Linked DNA regions of Homo sapiens: region 2 is linked to region 1. Evidence: fine-mapped expression QTL. Tissue or cell type: whole blood. Region 1 holds a variant in brackets; the other region holds the start of a gene. All regions are shown on one strand. Distances are between the middles of the regions.

Region 1 (8,067 bases):
TGAGGGGCCACACCCTCAGTGGCAGGGGTGCCTGGTCAGGGCTGCAGGGGCAGGAAGGGCTTCTCTGGGTTCCAGGCCACGTGGAGCCTGGATTCTGGGGGGTGGGCGGTGGGGAGAGAGCAGCTCTCGCCGGGGGACTGGGGGCAGGAATGGAAGACCTGGCTGGAGGGTTAGACGCTGCCCAGAGGGCGATGCCCGAGGCTACCAGCTGCACCCACGCCCTCAGTGTCTGTGAGCCACACAGGCGTAGTGCACAGTGAGGCTGTGTGCAGCCTATGTGTGCATGTTTGCCTGCGTGCGTGTGTGCACGTTTGTGTGTGTGCATGTTTGCCTGCGTGCGTGTGTGCACGTTTGTGTGTGTGCATGTTTGCCTGCGTGCGTGTGTGCATCTATTTTTGCTTGTGTGGATGTTTGCCTGTGTGTGTGCACGTTTGTGTGTGTGCATGTTTGCGTGCATGTGTGCACGTGTTTGCCTGTGTTCATTTGCCTACGTGCGTGTGTGCACGTGTTTGCCTGTGTTCATGTTTGCCTGAGTGCATGTGTGTTTGCCTGTGTGCCTGTTTGCCTGCGTGCGTATGTACACGTTTGCCTGTGTGCACGTCTGCACGTGTGTTTGCCTGTGTGCATATTTGTCTGTGTGTGTGCACATCTGCATGTACATGGGTCCTGTCATTGCTGCCCGTCTCCTCCCGAGAGCTTTCTCTGCACGTTGGCCCTGCCTTTGCAGCTTCTGCCAGCCCCGTGGCGCCGAGTGGCCTTCTTCCCAGCCCCAGTGGGCGCAGTGGGGTGGGCCGTCCTCTGAGGGCACCCGAGCTGCTGCATCTCCCGTCTTCCCGCATGCAGTCCTCAGGGCACCTGTCCATGAGCCCCATTCACAGGAGCAGTCCCCAAGGCACCTGTCCCACCTGGGCCACCCTTGGCCCTGCGTCCGTAGCCAGAGCTTGGAGGGCTTTGTCCACCAGGCCTGGGACCCTGGGATCCTTCCTCAGAGTCCCCCGGCGTGGGGGCAGTGTGGAGGGTGGCGCGGGTGGAGGGTGGCCCGGGTGGCGGGGTGAATTCCTGGGGAGAGCCTGCCCCCTGGCGGCCACCTGGGAGAATGCAGGGAACATGGCTGAGCAGCGTCGGCTGTGGAGGGAGGGCAGGGGCAGGGGTCAGGGCTGCAGGCGTGTCCCTGGGGCTGATAGCGGTGGGATGGGGTCTGGCCAGTGGAGGGTCCATGGGGTCTCCTAGCAAACGCAGTGGCGCTCCTTAAATGACGGTGCCAGGCGGGGCTGTTCTCCTTGGTTGGCCTCTGTGTCCCTTCAGGCTCCCAAGGCCCCTCCTCACATCCTCCCTCGAGGGCAACAAGCTGAGGCCCCCTGGGGTCGGCGGTCCCATCTGCTGGGACACCCGCGCTGCCCGACAGCTTGCAGGAGCCGGGCCTGACCCTGGCCAGTGAGACCATCTCCCTCAGGGACAAGGTGGTCTTTTCAATCCTTCCATCCCAGCGGTCTCACAGTTAGGGGCCCTGGTGAGGGAGAGGAGTTACGACTCCCACCACCACCTCAGGCGGTGGGTGAGATGCTCTGAGGCTGGCCTGGCTCACACCGTGTTGGCAGGAAGCCTGACCCCCGCTCTGTTCCCACCCCCACCTCAGTCCTGTTTTTTTAAAAAATACCCACTTTACTGAGATGTGATTTGCATACTGTACTCTCTGAAGTGTGCAGTGAGTGACTTTTAGTACATTTGCAGAGTTGTGTGGGGACATCTGTGGTTGCCACAACTGGGAGGTGCTCCTGGCATGGAGTGGGTGGAGGCCAGGAATGCTGCTCAGCACCCTGCTGTGCCCAGGGTGGCCCCACCCCAAAGAACGGTCCAGCCCCAGTGTCCACAGCACCTGGGGGAGACCCTGGAATTAGAGGGCTGGAGCTGCCCAATCCTCTTGCCCTTCCTGAGGAGGCAGAGGTCTCCACCTTGGAGTGAGCGCTTCTGGGTGTCCAGTGTGGGACACTGAGGGGCCCCAGCCAGCCCGCCAGGCGCCCACGGGTGAGGGGCCTCCTGCTGCACCCCGGAGTCGCCTGGACCTGCCCCCTGCCCTGTGCACCCCTGCTGGGCCCAACGACTAAACCTTTCTTCCCAGGGTTTCAGAGCGTGCCCTGTCCCGGTGGGCGTGCTCCTTAGGGAGTTAACGCTTCCTGCTTCCTCTTCCCAGGTTCTGTCCATGACGGCACAGCCGGGCCCTGGCCATGGGAAGAAGTTGGGCCATCGAGGTGTGGACGCATCCGGCGAAACCACCTACAAGAAGGTTCCTCGGCTCCCCTTAGCTGGCTGGAGGGAGCGGGACAGAGCAGAGGGGAGGGGGATCCCACTGGTAGCATGGATGGGGCCTATCGCCCCCGACACAAACCAGGGTCTGCCCAGGGACAGGTGTGGGCTGTGTGGAGGCAGAGGCTGGAGTCCTCAGTCCTGCATGAGGCCCCACTGTTTGCTGTCCTTGCCGGGCGGCCGGGCAGCATGTTCTGTGGCTCAGCCTGGCTGCAACGCCTGCCCGGCTCTGAGTCCCTGAAACCTCGGGCAGAGCCTGGGCTCTCGGCCCTGGTGAGGGAGAGGGGTTATGGACCCCACCACCACCTCGGGCAGTGGATGGGACACTCTGAGGCTGGCCTGGCTCACACCGTGTTGGTAGGAAGCCTGACCCCCACTCTGTTCCCACCCCCACCTAGGGCCTGTTTTTTCAAAAGTAACCGTTTTACTGAGATGTGATTCATATACTGTACAATTCAGCCTTTAAAGTGTGCAGTAAATGACTTTTAGTACATATGCAGAGTTGTGCAGCCGTCACCTCTAATTCCAGAACATTGCATCAGCTCAAATAGCAACTCTGTCCCTGTTAGCAGTCACCCCCATCCCGACTCCCAGCCCTGGCACCCACATCCCTTTCCTGCGTCTGTGGATCAGCCTGTCCTGGACGTGTCATAGAAGTGGAATCACACACTGTGTGGCTTTCTGTGTCTGGCGTCTCTCACTGAGTGTAGCGTCCTCAGGGTTCATTCGCACTGGGGCCCGTGTCAGAGCCTTGCTCCTGTTCATGGCTGAGTCGTGTTCTGGTGCGTGGGGCGCCCGTGCTGCACTTGTCCTTTGCTGCGTCATGGACGCTCGGGTGCTTCACACTCCTGGCCATTGTGAATTGTGCTGCTGAGGACACGTGTGTGTGAGTCTGTGTGGATACATGTGTTCGTTTGTCTCGGGCAGACACCCAGGAGTGGAATTGCCAAGTCACGTGTAACTCGGTGTCATCTTTTGAGAAACTCGCAAACTGTTCTCCATAGCAGCGGTACCGTTTTCACACCCAGCAACAGTGAATGAGGCCCAGCGTCCCCGTGTCCTCACCAGCACTCGTGATTGTTGTCTCTGATTCTGGCGTCCTCATGGGTGTGAGGTGGTGTCTCTTCGAGGTGTCTTTTTGTTTGTTTTGGTAGAGACAGGGGTTTCACCATGTTGCCCAGGCTGGTCTTGAACTCCCAGGCTCAGGGGATCCTCCCACCCCGGCCTCCCGACTGGCCGGGATTCCAGGTGCGTGGCCCCCCTGTGGTTTGATGTGCTTTCCCTTGGTGCCCAGTGGCATGGAGCGTCTTTGCGGGCTTCAGGGCCGTTTGTATGTTATCTTTGGGCACATGTCTGTTCTGTCCGTGGCATCTCGGGGAGGTGAACATACAGGCCAGACCCCCCACCACCCAGAGTGTGGCTTAGGAGGGAGACAGGCCGAAACTGGGCAGTGGCAGAAACCAACTCCCAACTCCCGACCTCCCTCCCTGCCACCTCGCACCTGCGACAGGAGCACTGGAGACCGGAATTAGAGAGCGGAGGTATGAGCCGGCTTCCCAGGGCTAAAGTGAACATGGCGC[G/CG]AGAGCACACAGTGAGAATAATGCAAACGATGCCAATGGCAAAAATAACAGCAGCCGGCCGGGCGCGGAGGCTCACTCCTGGAATCCTAGCACTTTGGGAGGCCGAGGCGGGAGGATCACCAGAGGTCAGGAGTTGGAGACCAGCCTGGGCAACATGGCGCAACCTTGTCTGTACTAAAAATACAAAAAAATAATTAGCCGGGTGTGCTGGTGCGTGCCTGTAATCCCAGCTCTTGGGAGGCTGAGGCGGGAGAATAGCTTGAACCCAGGAGGCGGAGGTTGCAGTGATCCAAGATCGCACCACTGCATTCCAGCCTGGGCAGTAGAGCAAGACTCTGTCTCAAAAAATAATAACGGGGCCGGCGTGCTGGCTCACACGTGCAATCGCAGCATTTTGGGAGGCCCAGGCAGGTGGATTAGCTGAGGTCAGGAGTTCGAGACCAGCCTGGCCAACATGGTGAAACCCCGTCTCTACTAAAAATACAAAAATTAGCCAGGCGTGACGGCGCGCACCTATAATCCCAGCTACTCAGGAAGCTGAGGCAGGAGAATCACTTGAACCTGGGAGGTGGAGGTTGCAGTGAGCTGAGATTGCGCCACTGCACTCCAGCCTGGGCGACAGAGCAAGACTCTGTCTCAAAAAATAAACAAATAAAAATAATAACAGCAGCTGACACCACGTCCGCAAGAGGGCCAGAACCATTGTGCCCATCCCTGTCTACAGGCAGGGAAACTGAGGCACATAGCGGCCATGTGGGTTGCCCAGTGTGACCACGTGCGTTACATAGAAAGCAGCTAACGGGAACCTGCGTCTGCAGATGTGAAAGTGATCTGGGCATCTCGCTGTAAATGGTACCCCCTAAAAACAAACTCTTGACAGTGAATCGACCCTTTTGCTAAGTTGGAGCTGTTTCAAAATGGGAGAACCTTTAGAACCTAGCTAGCCAACAGGACTGGGAGGGCTGAGTGACGTGGTGCGGCAGTTGCAGCCGAGCCCTGTCCTGGCTGTGTGGCCCGAGGGAGGGTGGCTTCATCCCCCGGCCTGATGTCGACAGCTCAGCAGCCGCAGGACAGGCAGCCCCGGGGACCACCAGGAGGGGGTTGGCAGGTGCCGGGTCCCAAGCTGCAGCTGGTCACGATCTCCACCCCCCGGTGCACACAGGGGGTGCAGGGCAGCGTGGGGAGCAGCCGGGGGCCCTGACACTCTGGTCTCCCTGCAGACCACCTCCTCCACCCTGAAGGGTGCCATCCAGCTGGGCATCGGCTACACCGTGGGCCACCTGAGCTCCAAGCCCGAACGCGACGTGCTCATGCAGGACTTCTACGTGGTGGAGAGCATCTTCTTCCCCAGGTGGGCCGGGCCCCCGGAGCCTCAGGGCTCACCCAGCACACACGTGGCTCTGAGGCGGAGTGGCCTGTCCTGAGCGCCCTTCTCTGCTGAAAGCAGCACCTGGCCCCTCCTGGCGCCTCCTTGGCCTTGAGCTCTGGCCCTCTGTCCGTCAGGACGTTTGTTTGCTGCTGAATCAGAGACCCAATGTAAAGGCAGTTTAAGAACAGGAAAAAGAAAAGATAGAAGTTAGCTCTTTTCTAATCTACAAATAACCAGTGGGCAGTGCAGGGCTGGTCAGGAGGTTCCATGGTGTTGGGGTCCTGGGATCCTTCTGGTCACCCCACACCGCCATCCTCAATATACAGCTCTGTGACCAGTGGTCCCAGGTGGCTGCCAAAGCTCCTGCCATCACGGCTGCATTCCAGCCACAGGAGGCAACAGAAGGAGAACAACAGCCCTTCCCTTTCGGACATGACCAGTGTTTCTGCTCCACTCGTGTCATTGGCTGAGTGCAGTCACGTGAGCACACCTAGCTGCAAGAGGCTGGGGCGGCATGGTCCTGTTCTTGGCGGCCATGTGCCTGGCCAACACTGTGGGCCCCGTTGTTAATGAAAGAAGAGAGGGTGGTTACTGGGGGACAGTCCCATCGGGAGCCCCCTGTTGCTTGTGGGATTGGGCCGTTTCAAGGAAGTCTTGGAGCTGAGCCGCTAGAGGCTCAGCTGCTAGAGGCACTAGGAGGGACCATGGCGGGGGTGGGGGAGAGGTGCCCACCACCCCTCACAGGTTTCCTCCCGTCCTTCCTCCACAGCGAAGGCAGCAACCTCACCCCCGCCCACCACTTCCAGGACTTCCGCTTCAAGACCTATGCACCTGTCGCCTTCCGCTACTTCCGGGAGCTCTTTGGGATCCGGCCAGATGATTACTTGGTAAGCATATTTGCTGTTACGGGCTTCCAGGCTTGAAACAGAACATGTTCAGGGTCTCGGAGGGTCTGTGGGTCAGGCATTTGGGGGCAGCCTCCCTGGGTTCCTCGTGTAGGGTTATGGTCAGGTTCAGGGCCGGAGTCTCCTGTGAGACTCACCGGGAAAGCAGGAGAGATCGGCCTCCAAGCTCACATCACTGGCAGCTGCAGGACTCCGTCCTGGCTGGCGTTGGCTGGGAGCCTCCATTCCTCACCATGTGGGCCTTGTCATCAGAGCAGGCGAGGGTGTCCACTCACCAAACAGTTGGTATAGTCTTCTGCAGCCTGGTGCCAAAGTGACTGACCCATTTTCAGACTTAAGGGTTAGAACAAGGCACTGGGACGTGGGTGCCACTGGGGACCAGCGTAGAGTCGGACCTCCTAGCTCTAGCCATGGCTTTATTGTTTCAGGTTAGCAAAGTCAAAATCTAGGCCAACCCCTTTGACCTAGCAGCCCATTATCCGGGCTCCTAAAAGAGGTGTTTGGAGGGTGGTGCTCCCCACAGTGGCCCTGGAGCTCATCAGCGCCAGCACCCCCTTTTTTTTTTTTCGAGACAGAGTCTCGCTCTGTCGCCCAGGCTGGAGTGCAGTGGTGCGATCTCGGCTCACTGTAAGCTCCGCCTCCTGGGTTCACGCCATTCTCCTGCCTCAGCTTCCCGAGTAGCTGGGACTACAGGTGCCTGCCACCACGCCCGGCTAATTTTTTGTATTTTTAGTAGAGACGGGGTTTCACCGTGTCAGCCAGGATGGTCTCGATCTCCTGACCTCGTGATCTGCCTGTCTCAGCCTCCCGTAGTGCTGGGATTAGAGGCGTGAGCTACCGCCTCAGCCTCCCGAAGTGCTGGGATTCCAGGCGTGAGCCCCGGCATCCAACCTGCGCCATCACCACTTCTAAAAGCTCCGGGTGGCCTTTTCCCAAGCCTGCCTGGTCATCCCGAGAACTTTGTATCAGGGAAGACTGGAACTCTGTAGACAAGTGCGGTTGGCGTTCTGGTTGTCACGACAGCACGGTCCCCGGGGCCGGGAGCCTGTGGTTCTCCGATCCTGCCCTCACCCGCGGTGGTCGGTTCCTTGTGCCTTTCTTTGGTGGTTGCTGACTGTGCGTGCGTTTGGTTTATCTCAGTCTGTAGGAAGCGCCCGAGGCTGCGCTCTTCCAGGGAGAACTAGCATGTGCTCCAGCCAGGGGTACGTGTGACACCCCCCCCTCCCCCGCCCCGAGAACTCCAGCCTGTTCAGGTGCCCGGGAGTCACCATGCTCCGGGTCGTGTCGCCAAGGCCCAGCCTCCGGACTTCAGTGTCCCAGCGTTTGCCTGAGCTTGGCAGGGCAGTGGGGAGTGAAAACACAGCTGGGGTTTTTGCCTAGAAATGGCCCTCGGGTGACCTGGACGCTACCGTGTGAGGCGGCCAGGAACAGAAGGCAGCAGCCTGGCTCGTAGCAGAGAGACAGCACCCGTGTCCATTAGCAGGAGTGGACGGATAAAAGCCGATCTGGGGCCATCTGGGTCTCACCTAGAACCCGATAAGATCGCATTCCAGGGCCTTAGGCCAGGTGTGCACCCACAGCATCTGGGGAGCCAGCCCGGTGTTGGTGACCCCCGAATCCTTCTGCTCATCTCAGGAGTGTGAGAATTCTCTTGGGGGCCTCCGGTGCTGAGCAGGCGGCAGCCCCCTAGCCTCTGTCCAGGCTGTGGTGTGAGTGTGGCCGTGTGCCACAGCGGGAGGACGGGCTAGTGTGCGTGTTGCTGTCCACAGGGCCCCTGAGCTTGAGTGGGGACAGGTAGGGTTCGGAGGGGACTCGAGGTTGCCGGTGCTTCTCTGATTGGACAGCTGAGGTCACAGTCCCCCCTGGTAAGGGGGGTAGCTCCAGGAAGGCCCACAGCTCAGGACAGCCA
Region 2 (8,067 bases), 77 kb after region 1:
GTCAGTAGTGCTGGTACCAACATCATTGCCCCACTTTTCAATGAGGACCCATTTTGCAGGCAGAGAAACTGAGGCTCCGAGGAGAAGTTCTTACCCAAGACCGCACTGACTCAGTGGAGGAGCTGAAGGTGCAGAAGCCTGGGGAGAGCCCCTCCCCTTCACTCACCGCTTCCTCCACTGTGGCAGCCCCCCCAGAACGAAGCCGCAGGGTCTCCCTCCCGCTGGTCACTTTCGCCTCTACTGGACATTTGCTGGACCGACTTCTCTGGCCAATCATATCTGGAGGGAACAGAGTGAGGGATGGCCATGGGTTCTGGGTGGAGCCACATCTTTGTAAACCCTGGGAGGCCAACAGCCGAGCCTTTCTAGAATCTTCCTCCCCTTCAAAGTCCTCCTTACATCTGTACGGCAAGTCTCCAGAGACCTATTCGAGATTCCACACTTCGCATCCCCAGCAAACTAAATCACAAGTCCAGAATGAGGTGTTGTAATGGAGCAGGTTTAGAACTAACATCCCAGTTCCATGCCCTCACTCTCCCTCTTCTAGCGACTTTCTCTAGAAGGGACTGCTTGGGACCCTCCTTGTGGTAGGATCCTCAATCTAGATATGTTCTTGTCTGGGTTCCAGAACCCGGCTTAGTGTCAGGACTGAGGTGCTAGAAACACACTTAGTCTCAGAGCTGGCCTGGGCTTAAGAGCAGGGCTTGGTCTGAGAGCTGGCCTGGGCTCTAGAGCTGGGTTTAGTCTCAGACTAAGCTTGATTTTTTTTTTTTTTTTTGAGATGTTGTCTTGCTCTGTCACCCAGGCTAGAGTGCAATGGCACGATCTCGGCTTACTGCAGCCTCCACCTCCCAGGTTCAAGCGATTCTCCTGCCTCAGCCTCTCGAGTAGCTGGGATTACAGGCACCTGCCACCATGCCCAGCTAATTTTTTGTATTTTTAGTAGAGACAGGGTTTCACCATATTGGCCAGGCTGGTCTCGAACTCCTGACCTCGTGATGCACCCGCCTTGGCCTTCCAAAGTACTGGGATTACAGGCTTGAGCCACTGCACCCAGCCAGGTTTTTTTTTTTTTTTTTTTGATACGATGGATCACCTGACCTCAGGTGATCCACCTGCCTTGGCCTCTCAAAGTGCTGGGATTACAGGTGTGAGCCACCACGCCCGGCCTAAACTCTATTTTTAGGCATGGCTTTTGGAGTTCACAGCCACGGCAGGGCAGATTCTAGAACCCCATACAGCTCACTCTCCCTGGGACGTCTCTCCATGTGTGCTGGGGCACTTCTAGAATCTCTGTCTCTGTTCTATAGAACAACGCTATCCAAAGGGCCAACCCATGGCTACATGAGGAGAATGTGCTAGTGTGTAAATCAATACACTGTTTTCTTCATTGAGAAAGTCTAGTTATGAAAAAAAATGGGCAGGGTGCAGTGGCTCATGCCTGTAATTCCAGCACTTTCGGAGGCCGAGGCGGGCAGATCACCTGAGGTCGGGAGTTCGAGACCAGCCTGCCAACATGGAGAAACCCCATCTCTACTAAAAATACAAAATTAGCCAGGCATGGTGGCACATGCCTGTAATCCCAGCTAGTTGGGAGGCTGAGGCAGGAGAATCACTTGAACCTGGGAGGCAGAGGTTGTGGTGAGCCGAGATCACACCATTGCACTCCAGCCTGGGCAACAAGAGCAAAACTCCGTCTCAAAAAAAGAAAAAAATTAAAAATTAGCTGGCACGGCCAGGCGCGGTGGCTCACACCTGTAATCGCAGCACTTTGGGAGGCCGAGGTGGGCGGATCACGAGGTCAGGAGATCGAGACCGTCCTGGCTAACACGGTAAAACCTCATCTCTACTAAAATACAAAAAATTAGCCGGGTGTGGTGGCGGGCGCCTGTAGTCCCAGCTACTCGGGAGGCTGAGGCAGGAGAATGGTGTGAACCCGGGAGGCGGAGCTTGCAGTGAGCTGAAATCTAGCCACTGCACTGCAGTCTGGGCGACAGAGCTAGACTCCGTCTCAAAAAAAAAAAAAGAAAAGAAAAGAAAAAAGAAAGGAAAAAAAAAAGAAAAGAAAGAAAACTTTTTTCTCATATTCTCATTCTCTACAATCCACCATGACCTCAAAGCACTGCTTTAAAAGTTCCCAGGCTGCGCGCGGTGGCTCACGCCTATAATCCTAGCATTTTGGGAGACTGAGGCGGGTGGAGCACTTGAGGTCAGAAGTTCGAGACCAGACTGGTCAAGATGGTGAAACCCCGTCTCTACTAAAAATACAAAAATTAGCCAGGCGCAATGGTGGGTGCCTGTAGTCCCAGCTACTCGGGAGGCTGAGGCAGGAGAATCGCTTGAACCCGGGAGGTGGAGATTGCAGTGAGCTGAGATCGCGCCATTGCACTCCAGCCCAGGCAACAGAGTGAGACTCCGTCTCAAAAACAAACAAACAAACAAACAAACAAAAACAAGTCTCCCAGCCTGGCTCCAAAGTGGTTCTGGACGCGTCCTCCTCCAACTCCACTTTACCCAGTCTCTCCCCCACCCCTCCCCCACAGGCTGACTCCATAACAATCTATTAATAGAAACTACCTACGAGTTTCTGATACCCTGCCAGGAGCTCCTTGGCACGCAGCGGGTGCACCTAGAACCTTCCAGCCCGTCCCATCCCCGACCCTCCTCCACCCCAGGCATCCGTAGAACGCACTTCGGGAAGAGCTCCCGCCAGCCCACCCGCCTCACCGAAGGCCCTCTTGGGCTGCACCAGGCGCAGGGTGAAGGGCTGGGACTTGGGCAGCTCCCGGAGCATCTTGGCCACCTCGTAGTGGCGGCAGCCCACAATGGAGTGGTCGTTGATGGCTTCGATGCTGTCACCCACGCACACTGCCTCGATCCGGTTGATGATACTGCCTTCCTTGATTCTCTGCAGGGATCCAGCGTCGCTGGCAGGGCAACCCCAGCCACCCGCCTCCAATCCGCAGAACCCACGTCGACCCAGAGTGGGGGGGGCAGTTGCTGGACCCCAGGAAGCCACCCGCCCACCCCCTCCCGGGCACCTTGATGAAGGCGTAGCCAGCCCCGTTGTCCGTGATGGTCAGCCCCAGAGCATCCTCTGTCTTAGTGACCTCCACCTCCTTGGTCTCGCCTCGCACGTGGGCAAAGATGAAGTCCTCCAGGCCTATCTGACCCCCCAGGAGCTTCTGCATGTCCACTTTGTGGCTGTTGAGGGTGCAGAATAAAATCTTCCCGGGGGAGAAGGAGCCTAGAGTTAGCCAGGGCATGCATCCCCCCACGCAGCCACCCTGTCTGCGCAGGCCCCTGCCCCCAGCGACCAGGATCCCAGCCCATGGGAAAGGGCAGGGCGTGGGACCCCCAGAACAGAGAGAGGAGGGAGAAGGAGACTTCCAGCAGGTGGAGACCCCTCTCCATACCCCGGGACCTCCAGCCCCCAGACCTCCAGGTTTAATCTGCTGGCGCCCCCTGGGGGCTGCAAACCAAACGAACCCGGATTGGAAAAACGCCCAGGAACCCCCCAACCCCACGGCGGCCTCAAACTTCCCATCCCTAAGGGGGCCATCTGGAACCCCAGACCCCAGCTACGCCCAGGAAGCACAGAGGCGCTTCCCCGAGGGCTGGGGTCCGCTCCAAGCTAGGTCTGCGCAGAGGATTTTCTGGAATATCTAGGGGTCCGCTAGTCCTAAGACCTGCCCATCTTTTGCGCAGAGCGTGCAAAGGGGGCCCCTGGGAGTGTGGCACCCCGGGATCTGAGGGCTGGGTCTCTGAGATCCGGCGATTAGGCGGCCACCCCGACGTCTGGGATCCGGGGATCTGGGGTCTCCCGTCCAGGGTCCAAGCTCCCTACCCCTCACCCCATCAGGCGGGTGGTCTTGGGCGCCGGTGTCCGGGCTCCTTACCTCGGTGGGCGCGATCCCGAAGGCTTCGGCGATCTTGGCGTACAGCTCGCGGACGTTGGTGAAGCCCTCGATCTTGCCCGTGGGGCTCCCGTGCGCCAGCTGCGTGCGGAAGACGAGGCGCGGGCGGGCGCGGGGCGCGGCCGGGGGCTCCGAGGGCGCGGGCGGGGGCGCAGACGCGCGCGGGGTCTCGGTCCCCCGGGCCTCCCGGGCCGCTGCTCCCTCCATGGCGGGAGAAGTTCGGCCACCCACCCGGGCCCTCGCCGCCGCCGCCGGATCCGCCGCTTCCTGCAGCCTCCCCTCCCCCGGCCCAGGGCGCGACAGCCGAGACGCCCGGGTAAGGGGATCTGGGAACCCGAGCCTCCCGGGAAGGCGACACCGCGGGGTGCGCAGGGGTGGGTCGGGCCCCAGGTGTCCGGGCCCTGCCAGGGCCAGCTGTGCCCTCCCCGGGGATACCCGCAGTCCGGGGGGGCCTGAGCTCAGGACCCTGGAAGAACAGGGACCACAAATAAGGACAGGGACAGGCCTGGAGCGGTGGCTCACGTCTGTAATTCCAGCACTTTGGGAGGCCGAAGCGGGCAGATGACCTGAGGTCAGGAGTTCAAGACTAGCCTGGCCAACATGGTGAAACCCCGTCTCTACCAAAAATACAAAAATCAGCCGGACGTGGTGGCGGGCGCCTGTAATCCCAGCTACTCGGGAGGCTGAGATCTCTTGAACCCGGGAGGCGGAGGTGGCAGTGAGCTGAGATGGCGCCATTACACTCCAGCCTGGGCAACAAAGCGAGACTCCGTCGCAAAAAAAAAAAAAAAAAAAAAAAAAAGGACAGGGACAGCTGAGGGTGCTGGAGCACTCACCCTCTGCTAGGCGAGGTCATTGTTTTATTTTATTTTATTATTTTTATTTATTTATTTATTTTGAGCTGGAGTCTCGCTCTGTCACCCAGTTTGGAGTTCAGTGGCACGATCTCAGCTCACTGCAACCTCTGCCCACCAGGTTCAAGCAATTCTCATGCCTCGGCCTCCCCAGTAGCTGGGATTACAGGCATATACCACCATGCCCGGCTAATTTTTTTGTATTTTTAATAGAGATGAGGTTTCACCATGTTGGCCAGGATGGTCTTGAACTCCTGACCTCAGGAATCCACCCACCTTAGCCTCCAAAAAAGCTGGGATTACAGGCATGAGCCACCACGCCCAGCCTTTGGTTTGTTTGTTTGATTTTGGAGACGGAGTCTAGCTCTGTCGCCCAGGCTGGAGTGCAATGGCGTGATCTCGGCTCACTGCAACCTCCACCTCCTGGGTTCAAGCGATTCTCCTGCCTCAGCCCCCCTAGTAGCTGGGATTATAGGCGCACACCACCATGCCTGGCTAATTTTTGTATTTTTTAGTAGAGACAGGGTTTCACCATGTTGGTCAGGCTTGTCTCGAACCCCTGACCTCAGGTGATCCACCTGCCTTGGCCTCCCAAAGTGCTGGGATTACAGGCGTGAACCACCGCACCCGGCCGCATTCAGTTTTTTAAAATTTAATTTAGAAACATGATTAATTTTTTGTACAGTTGGGATCTCACTGTGTTGCCCAGGCTGGTCTCAAACTCAAGACCAGGAGGTTCAGGCCATCCTTCAGCCTTGGCCTCCCAAAGTGCTAGGATTACAGATGTGAGCCACTGTGCCCAGCTTCTCTTCAGCATTTAAAGCTACCATCTGACATATCAGATATTTTATTTTATTTTATTTTTTGAGACGGAGTCTCTCTCTCTTGCCAAGGCTGGAGTGCAGTGGCACGATCTCGGCTCACTGCAACCTCTGCCTCCCGGGTTCAAGCGATTCTTCTGCCTCAGCCTCCTGATTAGTTGGGATTACAGGCACCTGCCACCATGCCCAGCTAATTTTTTTTGTATTTTTAGTAGAGACGGGGGTTTCACCATGTTGGCCAGGATGGTCTCGAACTCCTGACCTCAAGGAATCCTCCCGCCTCAGCCTCCCAAAATGTTGGGATTACAGGCTTGAGCCCCAGCCCCCTGCTGATATTTCATTTCATCTTTTGTCCTGTTTGTCCCCAGGACTGGAGGAATGTCAGCTCCAGGAGGGTGGGGGCTGTTCCCCTGCTCTGTCCCCATGCCCAGTGTCCAGGGCACAGTGCCTGGCATACAGCAGGTGCCCAGTGATCTTTGGTGAGGAATGAACGGATGTCCAGGTCACAGATGAAGGAGGAGACCCCAGGCACCAGGAGGCGTTGGTAAAAATCCGCTGGAGTGCAATGTCAGAAACACCTACGTATCCATCAGATTCCTACCCAGGAATGTCGGCTCAATAAACAGCCATCCTGCCTGCAGTGGCGGGCCCTACAGCAGAGCCAGTCACAGCCTCCGCCCAGGAGGAGCCTCACAAACTGAACATGGGGAGAGAAAAGAAAGTGGCAGGAGGGTTTGGACGAGGTAAGAAATTTTATGTAAGGCCGGGCACGGTGGCTCATGCCTGTAATCCAGCACTTTGGGAGGCTGAGGCAGGCGGATTGCTTGAGGTCAGGAGTTCGAGACCAGCCTGGACAACGCAGTGAAACCCCATCTCTACTAAAAACACAAAAATTAGCCAGGTGTGGTGGCGCACACCTGTAGTCCCAGTTACTCGGGAGGCTGAGGCAGAATTGCTCCAACCTGGGAGGCGGAGGTTGCAGTGAGCCAAGATCATGCCACTGCACTCCAGCCTGGACAACAGAGTGAGACTGTCTCAAAAAAAAAAAAAAAAAAAAAAGGCCAGGTCTGGTGGCTCACCCCTGTAATCCCAGCACTTGGGGAGGCCAAGGAAGGCAGATCACAAGGTCAAGAGATCAAGACCATCCTGGCCAACATGATGAAACCCCATCTCTACTAAAAATACAAAAATTAAATTAGCTGAGTATGGTGTCATGTGCCTGTAATCCCAGCTACTTGGAAGGCTGAGACAGGAGAATCACTTGAACCCGGGAGGCGGAGGTTGCAGTGAGCCAAGATCGCGCCACTGCACTCCAGCCTGGGACAGACAAGAGCGTGACTCCGCCTCAAAAAAAAAAAAAGAGAGAGAGAGAGGGATTCACCTGCCTCAGTCTCCCAAGTAGCTGGAATTACAGGCATGCACCACCATCCCTGGCTATTTTTGTATTTTTAGTAGAGACCGGGTTTCACTATGTTGGCCAGGCTGGTCTGGAACTCTTGGTCTCAAGTGATCTGCCTGCCTCGGTCTCCCAAACTGCTGGAATTACAGGCGTGAGCCACTGTGCCCAGCCCACACAGCTTTTTGAATGTACCAAAACCTACTGAATTGTATACTGAAATTTTTTTTAATAAAAAACTGCTGCAAAATGCTATTTTCCAGGCCTGCCTAGAAATGAGAAACTCTAAATTTAAGGTGGTGGTACCTGTGCCAGGACAGGGTGAAACTGGGGTGGGGAGTGAGGGGGGTTGGCAGTATCAGGTTGTCTGACTCGCCCATGATGGCTGTAACAAAGCACCAAAAACTGGGTGTGGTGAGGTGGCTCTTGACTGTGATCCCAGCACTTTGGGAGGCCGAGGCGGGAGGATCACTTGAGCCCAGGAGTTTGAGACCAGCCTGAGGAATAAGGTGAGACCCCATCTCTACAAAAAATACAAAATTAGCGGGGTGTGGTGGCACACACCTGTAGTCCCAGCTACTTGGGAAGCTGAGATGGGAAGATTGCTTGAACCCAGGAGGTATAGGCTGCAGTGAGCTGTGATGGCATCTCTGCACTTCAGCCTGGGTGACAGAGCAAGATCCTGTCTCAACCACAAAGAAACAGCTGGGTGCAGTGGCTTATGCCTGTAATCCTAGCGTTTTGAGAGGCTGGCCCAGATGGATCGCTTGAACCCGGTAGTTCAAGACCAGTCTGGGCAACATAGTGAGACCCCATCTCACAAATACCAATAAATTGACTGGGTATGGTGGCTCATGCCTGTAATTCCAGCACTTTGGGAGGCTGAGGTGGGTTGATCACTTGAGGTCAGGAGTTTGAGATCAGCCTGGGCAACATGGTGAAGCCCCATCTCTACTCAAAATACAAAAATTAGCCAGGCTTGATGGTGAGTGCCTGTAATCCCAGCTACGTGGGAGAATCGCTTCAACCCGGGAGGTGGAGGTTGCAGTGACCTGAGATCCAGCCATTGCACTCCAGCC

The links. PIP is the estimated chance that this variant, and not a neighbour inherited with it, causes the effect.
Region 2: it holds the start of GIPC3, and the variant in region 1 is fine-mapped to the expression of GIPC3 in whole blood (INTERVAL, PIP 0.95).

The regions. Positions count from the first base shown.
Region 1 is chr19:3,659,039-3,667,105 of GRCh38, reverse strand. It overlaps PIP5K1C (phosphatidylinositol-4-phosphate 5-kinase type 1 gamma), which reads left to right. Exons shown (of 18, transcript NM_012398.3): 3 at 2,192-2,284; 4 at 5,105-5,235; 5 at 6,023-6,140. Among named protein-coding and RNA genes, the nearest start is that of CACTIN, 36 kb to the right of the region's middle. RefSeq lists a silencer at 970-1,079 and an enhancer at 1,009-1,839. The variant G/CG (reference allele first, on the strand shown) is at 3,885.
Region 2 is chr19:3,581,655-3,589,721 of GRCh38, reverse strand. GIPC3 (GIPC PDZ domain containing family member 3) reads right to left here and starts at 4,244. Exons shown (of 6, transcript NM_133261.3): 1 at 3,900-4,244; 2 at 3,042-3,227; 3 at 2,728-2,908; 4 at 167-279. The coding sequence starts at 4,124.